4 linked regions of the Homo sapiens genome follow. The protein of the gene in region 4 purifies or fractionates together with the protein of the main gene of each other region. This does not show direct contact. Each region holds a gene or a part of one and is shown on either strand. Other genes may lie near its edges.

Region 1 (3,918 bases), about 50 Mb from region 4:
TTTTTCTTTTGATCATTGATAGAACTATGGCTCCTTAACTCAGAAGGGCCCTTTTTTCTCAAAACAACCTCTGCAAGATGTAACCTTGACTTCCCAGGAAAATGAAAGGTAGTTAACAATTTCCCCCATCACCTATGTAACTCCCTAAATAAATAAAAATTACAGGCAGTTGCTCCTGGAGATTACATATTATGGTGTTGATGACAATCTTTTAGAAGACGTTAAACTTTTTAGTTTGTCAGATTTAAAAAATGAAACATTACAGAAAGTTCAGGAACAACACACTTAAGTTGCATGAACATCCATGTCAGAGTCTGGGAGGAAAGGGGGCAGCAGTGTTGTAAATAAGAAGCTCGTAGATTTTTCTCATCTTATGAACTTGTTTTCAGTAAGATGTTCTCTTTGTTCTGACACCTCTCGCCAACTCCAATGCCCAAAGATCAAGGAACAGATCAGGATGTCATTGCTTCCTTTAATCCCATGGAGCCGTACAGAAGACTGACACAGATGCTGATCTCTTCCCTGATGGTAGCCATCTTTAACTGCAAATCTTCCCATTCCTTACTCCATTTTGGACCTTTCAAAGTGTGTGATCATTCGTTCCTAGGGAAAAAAAAAAAGGTTGAAGTATATTAGGTTAAAATGATCTATATTCCAAATATCTTCTATACAGACTATCCAAGCAAACATCTTCCACGAGTACTTTATGTTAATTAAATGTTTAGAGAAATGGTTCCTAAACATTTGTGAAGATTTTGAACATACAGATGTCCAGACCTCACCCAAGAACAACTAAATCAAAAGCTCTAGGCTTCTGGACAGAAAATCAGCACTCAGAAGGAAATGTATAGAGTCAGCTAAGATCTTATGTAAACAAATATTTACATAAGATTAGGCTTTAATAAAAATGTGTAACTCCTCTAATTCAGGAATTTCACTTGAAGACCCAGTGAAGGATGAGGGCAAAGACGTGCACCTAGTTAGCACTTTGCACTTTAGAATGGTTAGGAGGGTTGATTTGTTATGTGTTTTTTACTACACTTTTTAAAAATCATGTAAAAAATAAAATTACATTTAATTTAATATAGTATTTACAGTATCCCATTTCAATTAAAATAATTAATGTACTACCCTTAAATTTCCCTTCTTAGGCAATTTTATACCTTAGAGTTAATTTTCATTTTTCTTTTGCTTCATTTGCGAAGTACCTCTCACTATTGTATCACAAACTGACAGAACTACAAATCCTTTTTGAATATAATCAATCACATCAGATAATCTATAGATGTTTCCCTTTTTCTTAAAAATATCCTTTCCGATGCTCTCTGTTCTCCACTCCATCCAAGCCTGGTGCCCAGCTGCCAACCTGAGAATTTCTTACATCATACTGGGAATTTTTCTTGTCTCTGTGTTGGACCCTTTATTTCCTAGATCCCAAGTCTTTTTCCTAGCTTCCTCATTTTTGTGGAGAACATTTTCCCCTACTTTCTTCAGAAACTGCATATAGAACATCAATTATTTTACTTCTTGTGTGACTAGAAACATCTTTATTTTACCCTCATAATGATAGTTTAGTTGAGTACAGAATTCTAGGTTGAAAATGATTTTCCTCAGAATTCAAAGGCTTTGTTCTGGCTCCCAAAGATGTTGTTGAAGAGCCTTATGCCATTTTGATTCCTGGTCCATCATGTAAATTGTTTCTCCTGTAATTCATTTAAGGTCTTTTTCAGTTTTAAGGGAAAAAAAGGCCTTGGAGAAAGTGATGTCAGCAAGATGACAGAATAGGAAGCCCTGGACACTCCTTCCCTCTACAGACACACTGATTCAATAACACATGGAAAAATTCCCTTTGTGGGAAATCCAGAAACCAGTTGAGGGTCTTCTGCACTATAGGAAAGCATGAAACCAGCTGAATCAAAGTCGGCAGAAAAACCTGAGGCACCCTCTTGCCATAATTCTTCCCTTCCCATGGACCCAGCACAGTACCACATGATAGAGAGGAAACCCTCAGCTCCCAGCTTCTTTTTGCAGAGGGAAGGAAATGACTGGAATGTACATCCAACATTCTGACTTTTCTGGAACCTGCACGAGAGACTGTTTTCTGTCTTGCCTGAGTCCGAGAGCTAAAAACAAAGGGCCCAGGTTGGAAGTTGCTGAAATCAAAGTGGAAGTTTGGACTAGCAAGCATGAGCTCACTACAGCCGCTCCCCCAGCTCAGTGCAGAGTAAGCAGGTAGAATCCCCAACATCCCCAAATCCTAGCTTTTCCCTAGGGAGGAGAGATGGACTGTGAAAATGTTCCAACTTTGTAAGAGGTTACCTGAGGGAATGGTTTCTGTAGGGAATGGTTTGAAGCACAGATGGGACCAGTATATTTTAGGTGCCTGGGGCCAGTATGAACAAAAAAAGAGCTGGGCTATGCCACTGGCTCCAGGAGACCCATGATACAGCAGATAAACACAAAAGGGAGCAAGAGATTATAAATTCCTGGGGAGGGAAAAACCCAGCAAATCCCTCTGATTGGGAATACATATGCAGAAGTCCAGAAAAGACATAATACAGAGTGGGTTAGAGAGGCTATCAGAATGATTGATGAGGGTGTTCTCCTGTACAATGCCAGTCCATGAACACTGGAAAGGTAACTGTTTTTTTTTCTAATGCAATGAAACCAACACAAAGAATTAAGGAAAATAGAGAATCAGTGAAACATGGCCCAAACAAAGGAAGAAGATAAATCTCTGGAAACCAACCCCAGTGAAACAGAGGTATAGGAATTATTTGAAAGAGAATGCAAAACAACTATCATGAAGATGTTCAACGAACTCAGGAGAACAATGCATGAACAAAGTAAGAATTTCAATAAAAATATACAAAACATTTTTAAAAATATGCCAAGAAACTGGATAACCTAGAACAAAATATATAATTCCTAGAAGTATACAATCTACCAAGACTGAATCATCAAGGAATAGAAAATCCGGGGGGGGAACACACAACCTGGTAAGACCTACAACAAGATTCCATCAGTAATCAAAAACATCCCAACAAAAAAACAGCCCAGGACCAGATGGCTTCTTTAGTTGAGTCCTACCAGGTACTTAAAGACAAAGTAACACTAATCCTTCTTAAACGCTTTCAAAAAAATTAAAGACGAAAACATTTATTTGGAAGGAACTTCCAAACTTATTCTATGAGGCCAGCATTACCCTAATGCCAAAGCCAAAGACATGACAAGAAGAGAAACGACAGGCCAATATCCCTGATGAGCAGACGCAAAAATCTTCAATGAAACAATGGAAAACAGAATTTAACGGCACGTTGAAAGAATCACATACTATGACCAAGTGGAACAAAATAGAAAGCCCAGAAATAAAACTACACATACATGGTCAACTGATCTTCGAAAAGAGAGACAACACTACACAGTGGGGAAACTGACAGTTTCCTCAACAAATGGTGCTGGAAAAACTAGATATTCACATGAGAAAGAATGAAAGTAACTCATCTTCACTATACACAAAAATCAACTCAAAATAGATTAAAGACTTAGACAAGTCAAAATAGATTAAAGAATTAGACATAAGATTTGAAACCACAAAACTCCTAGAAGACAACCTAAGTTTCTTGAAATTGGTCTTAGCAGTGATTTCTTGTCTAAGACACCAAAAGCACAAAACAAGAGCAAAACAGACCAATGGGACTACATCAAACTAAAAAGCTTCTGCACAGCAAGGGAAGCACACAACAGAATGAAAAGCAACCTACAGAATTGGAGAAAATATTTGCATACTACATACAGTCACGTATACTTAATGATAGGGATACATTCTGAGAACTGCATCATTAGGCAATTTCATAGCTGTGTGAACTTCACAGAATATACTTACACAAATCTAGATGTTATATAGCCTACTACATA
Region 2 (5,175 bases), on a different chromosome or scaffold from region 4:
GCCCCTGCTCCCACATACACGGTCAATCCTTGTAGAGACTTAGGGTCAGCCAGGCGTGGTGGCTCATGTCTGTAATCCCAGCACTTTGGGAGGCCAAGGCGGGTTGATCATGAGGTCAAGAGATTGAGACCATCTTGGCCAACATGGTGAAACCCTGTCTCTACTAAAAGTACAAAAATTAGCCAGGCGTGGTGGTGGGTGCCTGTAATCCCAGCTACTCGGGAGGCTGAGGCAAGAGAATCACTTGAACCCGGGAGGCAGAGGTTGCAGTGAGCCAAGATCGTGCCACTGCACTCCAGCACGGTGACAGAGTGAGACTCCATCTCAAAAAAAAAAAAAAAGTTTGGAAAAAATAGCCATTAAAAGTACTAAAATATGAAGCTTTTTTTCTTCTACAATCTCTATTTTGACCTGTGATGTTTTTAATTTGCTATTTAATGTCATTCTAAGTAAGAAGCATTTAAATTATTAGCAGGAATTTTACCATTTGCTTAATATTGTGCAATGCCTGTTTTAAATACAAATATAAGGACATTTAACTCCTGTAGAATCACAGAAACGACATAATTAATATTTCTTAGCTTATACATGGATGTGTATTTAGTTCTTACCAGGAGAGGGTCTCCTCTGTCACTCAGACTGGAGTGCAGTGGTGCAAACATGGCTCACTGCAGCCTTGACCTCCTGGGTTCAAGTGATCCTCCCACCTCAGCCTCCCAAGTAGCTGGGACCACAAGTGCATGCCACCATGCCTGCCTAATTTTTGCATTTTTAGTAGAGACAGGGTCTCGCCATGTTGCCCAGTCTGGTCTCAAAATCCTGGGCTCAAGCACTTCTTCCATCACCACCTCCGAAAGTGCTGGGATTACAGGAGTGAGTCACCACACCTGGCCTTCAATTCTTTTTTTTTTTTTTTTTTTTTTTTTCAGACAGAGTTTCACTCTTGTTGCCCAGGCTGGAGTGCAATGGTGTGATCTTCTTGGCTCACCGCAACCTCCGCCTCCCAGGTTCAAGTGATTCTCCTGCCTCAGCCTCCCAAGTAGCTGGGATTACAGGCGCCCACCACCACACCCTGTTAATTTTTGTATTTTTAGCAGAGATGGGGTTTTACCATGTTGGCCAGGCTGGTCTCCAATTCCTGACCTCAAGTGATCTACCAGCCTCTGCCTTCCAAAGAGCTGGGATTACAGGTGTGTGCCACTGCACCCAGCCTTCAATTCTTTTCTTTTTTTTTATTGAGATGGAGTCTCACTCTGTCGCCCAGGCTGGAGTGCAGTGGTGAGATCTCGGCTTACTACAACCTCAGCCTCCCAAGTAGCTAGGATTACAGGCGCCTGCCACCACGCCCAGCTAATTTTTGTAGTTTTAGTAGAGATGGGGTTTCACTATCTTGGCCAGGCTGGTCTTGAACTCCTGACCATGTGATCCACCTGCCTTGGCCTCCCAAAGTTCTGAGATTACAGGCATGAGCCACCGCGCCCGGCCTTCAATTCTTAATACGTGCACATTCTGCCAGCACTGTTGGCTTGCTAGTTAATAAGGAAGGATGGAAAGGAAAAGGATGGATTGGTTACCCTATCTTCCCTTTCCTTTCTATATCGCTATTTGCAGCATAAATAGGTGGATAACACAAAAGCAAGAAAGGATGCAGCAGAGTTCCTTGGTCATTCGTGTTTCTTAGAACACCTCTGTCTTTGTGCACTTGAAGCACGTTCTAGTTTGAACTGAAAGCTTGGCCTCTTGGGTCAGTCATAGGTGTGCACTCGCCTTGTACTTGCTTTGAGTCTTGTTGAACTCCCATGCGTTGTGTGTCCCCCAGATTTGTGTGCTCATGGGCATTGCAGACTCTGTATAGGTATGATAAGCGAGGAACGGAGCACACTCACTGTGTGTGTCTCTTGCTCCCTGCATGTCCCACTGTCCTATCAGGCTCCACTTGCAAGACACAAGGTCAAAGATAAAATCATTAAGAATTTCAGGGTCGGGCACGGTGGCTCACCCCTGTAATCCCAGCACTTTGGGAGGCCAAGGTGGGCAAATCACGAGGTCAAGAGATCGAGACCATCCTGGCCCACATGGTGAAACCCCATCTCTATTAAAAATACAAAAATTAGCTGGGTGTGGTGGTGCACGCCTCTAGTCCCAGCTACTCAGGAGGCTGAGGCAGGAGAATCGCCTGAACCTGGGAGGCAGAGGTTGCAGTGAGCTGAGATTGCACCACTGCACCCCTGCCTGACGACAGAGTGAGACTCCCTCTCAAAAACAAACAAACAAACAAAAATTTCAGGCTTGGCCAGGCACAGTGGCTCACACCTGTAATCCCAGCACTTTGAAAGGCCGAGGCAGGCGGATCACCTAAGGTCAGGAGTTTGAGACCAGCCTGGCCAACGTGGCAAAACCCTGTCTCTACTAAAAATACAAAAAATTGCCGGGCATGGTGGTGTGAGCCTGTAATCCCAGCTACTCGGGAGGCTGAGGCAGGAGAATCACTTGAACCTGGGAGGTGGAGGTTGCAGTGAGCCGAGATTGCACCACTGCACTCCAGTCTGGGCAACAGAGCGAGACTCTGTCTCAAAAAAAAAAAAAAAAGAATTTCAGGTGGGACACGGTGGCTCACACCTGTAATCCTAACACTTTGGGAGGCCAAGGCAGGAGGATTTGTTGAGCCCAGGAGTTCGAGACCAGCCTAGACAACAAACTGAGACCCCATCTCTACAAAAAAGATAATTGGGATTACAGGTGCCCATCACCACACCCGGCTAATTTTTGTATTTTTAGTAGAGACGGGGTTTCACCATGTTAGTCAGGCTGGTCTTGAACTCCTGACCTCAGATGATCCACCTGCCTCGGCCTCCCAAAGTGCTGGGATTACAGGCGTGAGACACCACACCCAGCCTCAGATGATTTTTTTTTTTTTTTTTTTGAGACAGGGTCTTGTTTTGTCACCCAGGCTGGAGTACAGTGGTGCAATCATGGCTTACTGCAGCTTCACCCTCCCGGGCTCAAGCAATCCTCCTGCCTCAGCTACCTGAGTAGCTGGGACCACAGGCGTGTGCCACCACGCCCAGCTATTCTTTTTTTTGTGTGTGTAGAGACCCTATAGGGCACAATGTTGCCCAGGCTGGTCTCGAACTCCTGGGCTCAAGTGATCCTCTCTCCTTCCCTCCCAAGGTGCTGGGATTACAGGTGTGAGCCACTGTACCCAACCTTCTTCAGATGATTAGGATGCATGCTAAAGTCTGACCACCACTGTTCTTTCTGAAATATTTTTTCTACCTCATTTCAGCCTCCTAATTCCTACTCCTTCTTCCCTGCAAATGTCACTTCATCAGAGGTGCTAGACCCTGGGCTAGATTAAACCCCTCACTCTCCAAGTCTCTCTTTTTTTTTAGACAGAGTCTCACTCTTTGGCCTGGGCTGCAGTGCAGTGGTGCGATGCCCAATTCTCCTGCCTCAGCCTCCTGAGTAGCTGGGACTACAAGCGTGTGCCACCACACCCGACTAAGTTTTGTATTTTTAGTAGAGACAGGGTTTCGCCATGTTAGTCAGGCTGGTCTCGAACTCCTGACCTCAGGTGATCCGCCCACCTCGGCCTCCCAAAGTTCTGGGATTACAGGTGTGAGCCACTGCGCCTGGCCTCTCCAATTTTCTTCTGTGAGTTCCTCAGTTCATGTCTCCCTGATAGATTTTGAGTTCTAGGTGTGTCCGTCTCATTCTCCATCTTGTCCTGAGTGCTAAGCAGGGCAAACAGTAGGCACATAATAAGTGAGAGTGGAATTGCATTGGCTCACAGGGTCACCAAAGGAATGGAGATGTGGGGCCTGCAGGCATCACGAAGGAGTCTAGGGGAGCTAGGGAGAAAAGGCTAATCATAGGCCACCCACTCGCCCTCTAGGTACAGCCTGTACACCCGCACCTGGCTCGGGTACCTCTTCTACCGACAGCAGCTGCGCAGGGCTCGGAATCGCTACCCTAAAGGCCACTCGAAAACCCAGCCCCGCCTCTTCAATGGTGAGCTCTGACTGCCCCGGCCAGCATCCCCCATTCTGTGCCCCCACCCTCCCCGCCTGCTCCCCTTCACATACCCCAGCCCCTGGGCTCCCTGCCTGTTACCCCGCCCACAGCCCATCTCTGTCCCCAGGAGTGAAGGTGCTTCCCATCCCTGTCCTCTCGGACAACTACAGCTACCTCATCATCGACACCCAGGCCCAGCTGGCTGTGGCTGTGGACCCTTCAGACCCTCGGGCTGTGCAGGTGAGGGGAGGGCAGGGAGCAGGGGGTGCCTGGAGTCACCTTGGGGACTGGCAGTTTCGCCTTGCTAGAGAGGGCTGACCCTTGTCCGTCTGCCCGTGGGATGTGTCCCATATGCTCCATGTTCACACGTGCACATGCGCACACATAGCCTGGGGAAGGGGGGTACAGGGCATGGCTGGGCAGAAGGGGAGAGCAGGAGTGGGGGATGCAGAGCCAGAGGGCTGGGGGTGTTGGCCCAGGACTCTGGGTCTAGTGAGTTTCCAGGCTGGCTTTCACTCCCATTGGCCCCCTTCAGACCCCCTTTCTTTCTGTCACCTCTGTCTGTCAGTATCTGGGTCTCTCTGTCTTTCCCTCCCATTCCTTATCTCTCTGTGTCTGCCTCTCTCTATGTACAAGTGTCCCTCTGCCTCCATGTGCCCCGTGCTTCACATTCCTGGATCTCTCCCCTCCAGCTCCATCCCTTTCCTCTGCTTCATCTCTCCATGCTCTCCTCTCCTCTCCACCAGCGCCCACACTCCTGGCTCTTGCTGCTTCAAGTGCCTCTTGCATCCTGCTCCCCAGTCTCCAAACCTCCTCTCTCTCGCAGGCTTCCATTGAAAAGGAAGGGGTCACCTTGGTCGCCATTCTGTGTACTCACAAGCACTGGTAAGGGGCTCCCGTCTTCCCTGGCCCACCCTTGTCCCAGCTGGGCTTGCCAGGACTGGGCCCATTGAGGACGGCCGGGGCCAGAGATCAAGAAGTCAGTACGGGCCGGCACCCGCCTTCCTCGTGAAGTCACCTGGACACCAGCAGGGAGGGAGGAGAGGGGACAGTCTCCCACCACTCCATTGATCAAGCTTCTGAAGCCCCAGAGGGCAGGGCAGTCATTTCTCTTTCATTTCATGGGCATGTATTAGATACCTACTGCACACTGGGCATGGA
Region 3 (5,175 bases), on a different chromosome or scaffold from region 4:
TGTTTCACATTTAACAATTTTTTTTTTTTTTTGAGACAGAGTTTCACTCTGTCACCCAGGCTGGAGTGCAGTGGTGCAGTCTCGGCTCACTGCAACCTCCGCCTCCCAGCTTCAACTGATTCACCTGCCTCAGCCTGCTTAGTAGCTGTGATTACAGGTGCCCACGACCACACCTAGCTAATTTTTATATTTTTAGTGGAGATGGGTTTCACCATGTTGGCAAGCCTGGTCTCAAACTCCTAACCTCAGGTGATCTGCCAGCCTCAGCCTCCCAAAGTGCTGGGATTACAGGCATGAGCCACCGTGCCTGGCAGCAAAATGTATTTTTGCATTTCACTCACAATAGTCCTGAAGTGGGGTTGATCCTTAGAGATACAAGTGGAAAACTGAGGCTCGGGGACATTGAATGGCTTACCTAGGGTCAAAGGGCTTCTAAATGACAAAGTCTGGAGCTCAGGTCTTCAGACTTCAAATGGAAAGCTTTTATCTATATCCTATTCCCTCTCTCTCACTGCAATTAAAATAAGAGAAATGTGTTCGACTAGAGGCCTGGGGAGGTCACATGGAAAAAGAGTGGACCCCACTAAGTCTGATTTGGGTTAATGAAGAATAGGCAAGACTTACCCCAAGCCCAGATAACACACTTTTGACAAGTGTGGCATCTATGGATACAAAAAACCACTAATGGTAATGAAGCATCTTTTAAACTTCTTAAAATTTCAACTCATAATAAGAAATACACTTTACATTTCAGTGTATTGTGCACTAACATACCTTTGTGCCAAAACAAAATTTCATGAACCAGTAATTAAATATATACAGTATACCAATTTATGCTATTTTAGTTGTTTAAAAAATGCCAGCCATGATGCAGCAAGAGGTTGTTGACCATACTTTGAATCTCAAACACCAGACCAGAAGGTTCCAACGGTCCCTAGTAGTAACAGGTAATGCTGAATAGATAATAAGGGGCCAGGCTGGAGGGATGTGAAGTGCCAGGACTGGCACTAGGGTTGAAAGTTCTTTTACCACCAAATACTCAACCTTTCTGAAAGGTTTTCATCCTATCACTTAGGCAGACTTTCATCATGGTAATGTATAGAAGGGAAGATTATAAATGTTAAGTTTGGGTAATATGAGAGTTTAAAAAAATTCCTTTAGCTATGTATTACATTTGCATTGGAAAGGTATTACATATTTTGAAAGTACTATTAATGCTTTTTGATCCTTTGCTGTTTTTAAAGGAAAATGATGCTGCTGCTCTATGAAGAAGGCCTCCGGGTTGTCATACACACCTCCAACCTCATCCATGCTGACTGGCACCAGAAAACTCAAGGGTTCGTAGGGGCCTGCTCACTTCCTGGCAGTGTGTGTGTTGATAAAGGTCAAAAGCCAGAACATTCACTTTATTCTTTTTTCTATTTTTTTTTTAAGTTGTAAAAATAACACACATGGCCTAGAAAAAGAGTTGTATGCAGAAAAAGTTACTGTATTCTTTTACTACCTGCCCCATTCTACCTTCTTGGGGTAACCAGTGTTAACAGGAGCATCATCATCCACAGCTACCTCTGCTGTACATGTAAACATACATTACTATTTACACACAGTAGTCTCTTCCTAGTTTTTAGAGAAGTGGCATCATATACACTCTACAGCTAAGTAGAGGGCACAGCACATGCAGAGATCTGAGGCAGAAAAGGGGTTACAGAATGAAAGATCTGAACCTATTGTTTTCCTAGTAGGATTTACCAGATAGCTTTTGTGATTTCTCCTTACTCATGTACCCACCTGTATTTTTGCTTACCACTTCCCAAACAGGAATCAAAGGAAAAGTTGGGGTAGGGCCTGGTCATGTTAATAGTGTGCTAAATATTTCCCCACTCCCCCAGTTGGTGTATTTTCTTTGAAACAAATTTAAGCTGGTGTCTTTTTAGAGCCTTTAGTGTGTTAATAAAGTTGTGAATCTCCAAGAGAAGAACTGAATACGAAAGCTTTTATGAACTTTTTAAACTACTAACCCTCTGTACTTGGTGCACATATGCTAGATCCAGGTTTTGATCCCCTTTTCAAGAGGGGTTTGCTTTTTAAAAGGGAGCTTTAGGGATTTGCTCAACAAGTTCAGCTATTGTTCTTGATTATGACTAACTTTAATTTTCTTTTGTTTAAGCCATTTTGTACATCTCTGCCTGTGCTAGAGAAGAGCTGGTTAACAAACAGCCTTCTGTGTTGGGAGAAACTCGGACGTTTGTCTAGCACCATTTCCAGGTTCACGTTTTCTCTGTCATCCTCCTCTGCCTCACCCTGCCCCATATCATTGCCTAGCTTGGGCTAGAACTCCTAATTTGGAGTGTATTACTTTCAGCTAAGCTCTGCTGAGCCCAGGTTACATCTTTGTTTTGTTTGTTTTTTTGAGACGGTCTCACTCTGTCACCCAGGTTACAATGCTGTGATGCGATCACGGCTCACTTTAACCTCAACCTCCTGGGCTCAGGTGATCCTCCCACCTCAGCCTTCTGGGTAACTGGGACTGCAGGCACGTACCACCACACTTGGCTAACTGTCTTTATTTTTTGTAGAGACAAGGTTTTGCCTAGTTGCCAAGTGATCCGCCTGCCTCAGCCTCCCAAAGTGCTGAGATTACAGGCATGAACCACCGTGCCTGGCCCCAAGTTACATCTTAGTTTGAGCTGAAATAGCTTTCCAGTTTCCTTCAACAGGTCTTGCTTCAACCTGAGTGCACTGCGCAGGACAAATGTAATCTCCCTCCCTTAAAGCAGTCCTTCAGAGTTTGAAAGGGAGTCTTGTTTCTGAGCCTTACATCTCTTGTTCCCTCCCCACTCCCTTGCCCCACCATAGCATGTGGCTTTGAGACCCCTAGCTGTAATTCCTGGTCGCTTTTCTATAAACATGTTATAATTTTTCAGTATCCCACTGAAAATATGCTTTTCAAAATGAAGTGTGGCTCTGACTGGTCCAGGGTTGAGGGGATAGCTGCTTGGTCTCTAAGTCTCAGCTGTAGCACTTTCTTGATCTACTGAATTTATGGTTAACTATGCCTTTGGTACCCCAAGAGCTTCTAAGCCAGTTCTCCTGAGCTGCCAGATTGGGTTTGGGGATTCATGTGGCCCTATCAAAAGGCAATGAGATTAATGTAGCTTGTTCTCATGAAACAATGTTACTAAAGGGATTTCTCAGGTTAGCTCTCAGCCTCACGTGGTTCCAAGAATCCCACCCTGGGCCTCCAGCTCCTTCTGAAGTTGGAAGCTTAGCTTACAGGCAGTAGTACTGTCTTGGGATTCTCTGGGGTGGTTGCCAGGAGGGAAGAGGCAGGGATAAGGGCTTGGGTGTTTCTTTTATTTAAAAAAAGTATTTTTTAATTTAAAATTTTGGAAAACTTATTGACTAGGTAGGAACGGTTCAAAACTCAGAAAGTACCAAGACTATGAAATCTTCCTCTGGCAGCCATCCTGGTGTGGGATCCTATTATTTCATGCTTGGCCTATATTCTACTCTCTAATGTTTTGCATTTCATGTTATTTGTGGTAATTTTAAAACTTTTGAAAGCAGTTTTTGTATACAATCTCACTTCATAATTGGTCTACTGTGGTTCTGCTAATCCCCTTCAGCTGCCTCATGATCCACCTGTTGATTTCTCACTTTTTAAAATTAGAACAAGAGTTGCATCCAAAGCTCACAGTAAAGAATAAAATAAAATTATTTGGCTCATTATAATAATTTTCTCATTTTGTGATGTGTTAAAAATGCCTCATATCTCAGCATCTTAGTTTAGAAAGTCATTTGTCTTGTTTCTCATCCAGAACTCACCTGTGAGTGAATCTCTGATCCAGGAGGAGCCTCACTCAGCCTGGGAACTTTGAGGTGCTATTGCAAGGGGAGGTCCTCCACGTCTGTCCAGCCCAACCTGGTCATTTTACACACGGAGGCAAAGGCCCAGAGAGATCACAGAGCTTACCCAAAATGGTATAGTCAGCTAGTCGATCTGGGTCCAGAACATGGGCTCCAGCCCTCATCACACCATGCTACCTCCTGTGCTAAGTGTCTCCCCAGGGTGGGAAGCAGGGGTATGAAATGCCCCTTGCTAGAAACTTGCAGAGTTGAGAAGATGTACGGCCGAGAGTCCTTGCAGTTCTGGATGCCTTCTGCCCTGGTGGCCTGCATCTTGCCAGTCTCCTTCAGGGGCTGCCAGGTGAAAGAGAAATTGGGCAGTTTCTCTTTCAGCTTAATAGATAGAACCCAGGGTGGGGAAAAGGAGAGTAGCCACAGAAGGGGAAAAAAGTAACACCTGATACTTTTGACTGCTCCTGTAAGTCATTGCTTTGCAACAGCCCAGTGAGGCAGCCTTGTTAACCCCACTTTTTTGCATTTGAAGAAACTGAAGCACAAGAGGTTTGAAGCCATTTTAGTAATCTACTGTGGAGCAGTTTATAGAAGGATTGGGATTAGATATGATTGTTTTCTATTTATGGATATAATGTAGAAGTTTTGGCAAAGAGCATTGTTTTCCTCTAGGGAAAAAGAATTAATGAAATGAAAGATGTCTGTAATGCTTCTTCAGTGAATTAAGTGTTGAAAGTTTGAGGTTATTGTAATGTCACTGAATGTGATATATACTTAATCCAGGCACCAGAAAGTATAAGACATAAAAATATGCTGCTATAGGACCTACGTTATGAAAATGGGTTTGTTAATTGAAAATAGATTTTTCACATGCACTTTTGGTATAGATAACACAATTCTTATTTCACATTTGGCTGAAGAGCTGCATTGATGCAGACAAGGGCAAATTCTTGCTTGGGATTACCACTAGTAGCATGGATTTGCTTTAACCGTTAAGAGTAGAATTCTTAACTCTTGTCATCAAGTCTTAGAAAGCAATATATAGGTGCAGAGGTAAGAGGAGCAATAAGGAAGGTTTGGCAAGTGAGAGGGAGCATGGAGGGATGTGGGTTGGAAGAGGTGGGCAGAGCCCAGGTCTTACTGAATCTTAAATTCATGGCAAGACATTCAGGAATAATTCTGAATGTGATGAGAAACCATTGGAGTGGTGTTCTCAGATTTATGTTTCATGTTTCCTAAGATTACTTACCATGTGGAGATACCGAGAATTCACCTCTTTCTTAGGATGAAGGCATAATCGATACAGAGATCATTATG
Region 4 (5,175 bases):
CCACAACATATGTCCCTTTGTCCTCGCCCTCCTGACACCTCGGGCTCCCTTGAATTGGTCACTCAGCCTTTCAGCCAGTGAAGCAGAGCAAGCTTCAGGAGCCCAGATCACCAGTTTAGGAAACAGAAGCCTTGGCCTCACACAATATTCCAAATCCTCAGCTCCCTGGGAGGGACTTTTGTTGGTGCTAATGTCAACGAGCAGGGTTATACCATTACTGTTAAAGCAACTGTGGAATACTGTACCCTATGAGAAGTACTCTATCACATGACTATTTGTTTAAACCTCACAACCATCTGTAAGATAAGCTTGATCATTATCCCCATTTTTCAGATGAGGCTATTGAGGCTCGAGTAAGTGAAGTTGCCAGGAGCTGGGAAATAGCAAGTCTAAGTTCAAATCCAGGTCTTCCAACTCCAAGTCCAACATTCTTTCCACCTACCCTCAGCCTTCAGCACCCAGTGGCCACAGACCACAGCAAGAGATACTGAGGACCTCCCAAAGTGAAGCATCAGGGTACCTGCCCCGCCCAGCCAGTCCTGCCTGCCCTGCTTTAACCTCCTTCAAGTACCCATGGACTGTAAATGATCAACATGAATCACCATTCCTGCAGTGGGCTCCTCTCCCATGTGACTAATTTTTATAGCATCTTTAAGATGAAATGGATTGCTATATTTATAAGGGAATAAACAGAATTAGCAACTGATATTTAGCTTATTACTTGCCCTTAAAAACTTTTTACCTCCCAGACAAAAATGTCCATGTAGAATAGGAAACTACTTGAATATGCAATTCACTAAACCAAAACTAAAGTTTAATTGAAATAATTTTATTTCTCATTGGTTGGGGCTACACGGTTATTATGTTTGCAGTAAATATGCATAACCATATTATTATTAATAGTAATAGCTAATATTTCCTGGGCACTCACTATGTGCCAGATATTGTTCAAGGTGCTTTACATGTACTGACTCAGTTCATCCTCACAGCAAAACAGAGGGTAGGTACTATTATAACCCCAGTTATAAAATGAAAAATTGAGGTACACAGAGATTAAGTAAACAGCTCAAGGTCACAGAGCAGGTAAGGGGAGGACATAGGCATGAATCCCAGTCTTCTAACACTCATCGAATAAGCGACAGCTGCCACAGACACTTGCCTTTCTCCACCTTGGAACTGTAATCATTTAACTTGGAGTTTTAACCATTAAGCAATAATTTGTCTCATGCTAACACATAAACACTTAGGCTACATAAAATACAAGTGTCTTTGAATCACATCAATTCATTTATCCTATGAGCCAAGGTCCATGATTCCACTGTTTTTCCTGTTTATATCTGTTTTCCAGATACAGACATAGAAACCGAAAATAAAAATGAATTGAAAGAGTAAGGATGCTATCTTTCTGGCCTACAGATTACCAAAGGCATTTCCGAGAGGCAAGAAAATACCGAGATTTTCTTCAGGGGAGAACGGTTCCAAATCCATGTGTCAACCATACAGTCAAAGTTACCATTGAAATGTCCCTTCGCACCTTCAAAAAGTATGGCATACAATATTCATTGTATGCAACGCTGTACACAAACACGTATGTAAATATGCAATGCATGCGGCAATGTACAGAATAGAGTACATATGCAGAAGAGAAGTACTTTGACTCCACTTTAGAGAAACATGCTTATTAAATGATGCATGTAGTGAAATCTGCGCGAGTTGGAACTAAAGCCAGAGAAATGCAGCTAGTAGGGAGTTTTATTCTTCACTCTTTCTGCATGAAATGCAGCTGTATCCTCATCATTTTTGCAATACTACCCTTGTTCATCCAGGCCAATCTGCTAAGAGAATACAGTCCCTGATCAAGGCAGCACCTCAAAGTTTGCTTTTAGGTGTGCAAAATAAATTCACAGAGACCCTGTTGGTGGGGCTGCCTTTGCCCAGCAGTTCACCAATGACTTCGTGCAAGAAGCAGCCCATGCAGCATAACAGAAAACACGATTCCAGCAGCACCCAAGATGAGCTGCAAATGCTGGGCAATTGATTAGCAAGGCGGTGCCACTGCAGAGAGGCCTCTTGGCGATCCTTTTCATAAGGTGTCTAAAATTGAATGAGGGGAAGAGTTAACAAAATGCAGGATAGAGCCCTCGCTCATTTTACAACTCATTCAGTTTCTTCTATTGTTAAATACACCAACAAAAACCCCCTCACAAACAAAGATAAATACACAAACCTGGCTGAAAAGAATTTTCAGAAACACCTTTTTCCCTTAATAATTATTAACATTTTGAATCTAGCTATAAGGAAAAAAAAAATCAAGGTAATTTTATTTCTTACTACCTGGGGCTACATAGTAATTATGGAAATGGCAAGGAATTTTGTCACTTTGAGTAAGCATAAGTGTATAAAATAATTTGATTAAATAAAATACGGTTACCTTAGTCATCATAGTAATTTGACAAGGACTTTAAAAATGTCTCTCTCTGTTGAAAATGTCAACAGACAGTTTCCTGAGCTGTCTGCTTCTGGGTTGAATATGCAGAAACTCATCTTCGAAATGATGTTTCTTTAGAAAAAAAAAAGGAGTAACAAACCTAGCAGTTTCGCCTCACCCATTAATTGCAAGCCCACTTGACTATTCTCAGGCTGAAAGAAAAAGTGTGACTACAAAGCAGTGAGATAGAGCCTCATTAACCACACTCAGTCATCTATGTCATTATTTTGTCACCACAACCTCAAACTTATTTTTCTATAACTCTAAATAGGGAAATACCTACCCCTTGTTCACAGGAACTCCCTTTGTGCCCCACCCAGGAAACTAGACTGGCCTTTTTTCAGTTTTCAACCTGAGGAAATTCAAATGTATTTGTATGTATGCCTCAAACTAATCATCTAGAAGTGTCAGAGGCTTTAATTTCCTGTACACACCCTTATCTACTCCAGTCCTCAGTAATTTGATACCACACAGAAACCTCTATATGCAGGGCTACCCTCAGCGAGTGGCTTAAAACATTTTAGGGGGTCTCTGCAAAACACCAATAGGCACACACAAAATGACTTTCTCCCCATGCAGTTCTCATATGCCTGCATCTTCTCCAACCAGTCCAAGACTTAAGCACATGTTACATCCTTGCAAACAGGACTGGAGCCACTCGAAGCCAAAACCCAAGTAGAAGAAAATTAAATTGCATTCTCTGTTCCATACAAAATGACTATCAAACCGAGCAGGCCTCTCCTCTTATGCTGCAAAAATTATGTCATAGCCAGTCAGGAGGTTTAGGTGACTATGATGGAACATCCCTGTGACTATTGGTTTATCTGAAGCATGGTTTCCAGTTAAGATGTTTGTAACCGTAATAGATTTCAGAATCCACAGTTGGCCCAGGTTGCACCTGGGTTACTTTATCTAGATCACTGAGTCTGGCTTTCAGGATCAGTGTCTTTCTGTACTGCCTGACACCAAGGCAAAAGTTGCAGGCCCCCAGCCTAGCCTAACAATTGATGGCCTTATATACAATACAGTTTTCCTTTGAGTTTCCTCCCTGGGCAGGTTCTTGGTGGAAAACAAACACATGCATACATACACACACACACAGACACACACACACATTTTCTCTCTCTCTCTCTCACACACACACACACACACACACACACACACACACACACACGAGTCCTCCTTCTCAAAGTTGCTTCTTAAATCACAGGCAACCTTCTGCTTCAGTTCTGCAGTTGGGAAGCCTACACTAGTGTCATTCAGGACACTGAGAAATTTGTCTTTTCAGAAAAAAATAAGGAAATGAAACTGCAATATTTTAAGGCACCTGGGGAGATGAAATAAGAAGGTGGACTCTGGGAATCTAATAGGAAATAACATCGTTGGCATAGAATTTGTAACCACCCTCCTCTCTGTGAAAGGGAGCATTACTGGCACTGTCCCAAGGCAAGTCCTTCCTCAAGTATCTGGAAATGCCTCATTAGAGAGGCAGGCTGATTGCCAAGGTAAGGATCACGTATAACGCACACTTAGCACGTGGACCCTGCCCTGTGGTCCCCTACAGACACAAGGTCTCAGGTTTCCTAAGAAAGCCATGATGAATTAAAAGGAAGAAATGTGCCTTTCCTGCAAACAGCCTGCAATATTTCATTCTCCAATTATCCACAGAGAAGTCTCGCATGGCTGAAGGAGCAAACTTTTTTTCCCCATCTCCCAAATAACAGATGAAGAGAAAACTCTGAAGTGGCCCAGAAGAGCAAAGCCCATAGCAAGCTGCGTCAGTCAACCCTGACAAGCCAACTATTTATTTTCATGAGGCTCCGATGGCAAGGCAAAGACGAGGGCAGCCGGGCAAAGCAGAGCCCTTAGAGCCTTATGCCTCCACTCCTAGTAATCAAAATGAATTCAATTTCCTAGGCCTGTCCTCTCCTGGGCCTCCAGCTGCTTTCTGCAAGTCACCTGTTGACTCCTGTTACCCTACCCCACCCAACCAGGCTTTCCATCAGCGAAGGCTAGAAGTGCCAGGATGCCGCCACCAGGTGGACCGAATTCCTCCTCTGCTTGCCATTCCCCTGTTCTGGGATTAAAGTCAACCTCCTATCTCCTGGGGCCAGCCCTGCCTCCAGAAGTCCACCACTCCAGGAGTACTCGGCTTCTTAACTTTCTAAAGGAGCTAGGCCATTCATCTAGTTGCAGCCCAGCTTCATTTATTTGTCAAATCCTTAGATCACTGCAACCGAAAAATAGTAAGCCCACGCTTTTATCACTCCTGGGGTGAAAAGTTCTGCGGGTGTTTGCCACACATGAATAATGCACTCTACCGAGCAAAATTGGTTTGAGGCAAACAAACCGTTAAAGTGGAGGCAGCTGTTGATATACTAATTACCTCCTTCTAAACATAGACCCGGTTAGGTATTATGTACTTTGCATATGTCACAGTACAGACCCACATATATTTTATTAATGTGAATTTGCATCTCTGTAATACATGTACTTATTTAAATATTTTAACAGTTAAATTTCCCCTAAGGAAGTGCCGATAAACTGACTCCCAAAACACAATTATCCCCTATCCCTCAAATTCCAAGGGCTAATAGGTACTGTCTGCAACTGCATATTATAACTATAGACACAATAAGTGTATTTTATAGAACAGAAAACAAGGTATGCTTTTGACTACAGGGTTC

What was found. Proteins that work in one complex are often made in the same cells at the same time.
Region 1: the proteins of SLCO3A1 (region 4) and TMEM87A fractionate together in Homo sapiens (co-fractionation; one large-scale study listed by BioGRID). This does not show direct contact.
Region 2: the proteins of SLCO3A1 (region 4) and PNKD purify together in Homo sapiens (affinity purification with mass spectrometry; one large-scale study listed by BioGRID and IntAct). This does not show direct contact.
Region 3: the proteins of SLCO3A1 (region 4) and TDP1 purify together in Homo sapiens (affinity purification with mass spectrometry; one large-scale study listed by BioGRID and IntAct). This does not show direct contact.

The regions. Positions count from the first base shown.
Region 1 is NC_000015.10:42,211,147-42,215,064, forward strand, and holds part of TMEM87A (transmembrane protein 87A isoform 1 precursor), read right to left. Parts: intron 604-3,918; coding exon 562-603; 3' UTR 1-561. UniProt on the Homo sapiens protein: Potential monoatomic ion channel gated by mechanical force, implicated in normal touch sensitivity through the generation of mechanically activated currents.
Region 2 is NC_000002.12:218,335,888-218,341,062, forward strand, and holds part of PNKD (probable thioesterase PNKD isoform 1 precursor), read left to right. Parts: intron 1-3,895; coding exon 3,896-4,011; intron 4,012-4,141; coding exon 4,142-4,254; intron 4,255-4,840; coding exon 4,841-4,899; intron 4,900-5,175. UniProt on the Homo sapiens protein: Probable thioesterase that may play a role in cellular detoxification processes; it likely acts on a yet-unknown alpha-hydroxythioester substrate.
Region 3 is NC_000014.9:89,979,296-89,984,470, forward strand, and holds part of TDP1 (tyrosyl-DNA phosphodiesterase 1), read left to right. Parts: intron 1-1,244; coding exon 1,245-1,337; exon of another isoform or gene 1,338-1,384; intron 1,385-2,167; exon of another isoform or gene 2,168-2,265; intron 2,266-3,818; exon of another isoform or gene 3,819-3,981; intron 3,982-5,175. UniProt on the Homo sapiens protein: DNA repair enzyme that can remove a variety of covalent adducts from DNA through hydrolysis of a 3'-phosphodiester bond, giving rise to DNA with a free 3' phosphate.
Region 4 is NC_000015.10:91,855,517-91,860,691, reverse strand, and holds part of SLCO3A1 (solute carrier organic anion transporter family member 3A1), read right to left. Parts: intron 1-5,175. UniProt on the Homo sapiens protein: Putative organic anion antiporter with apparent broad substrate specificity.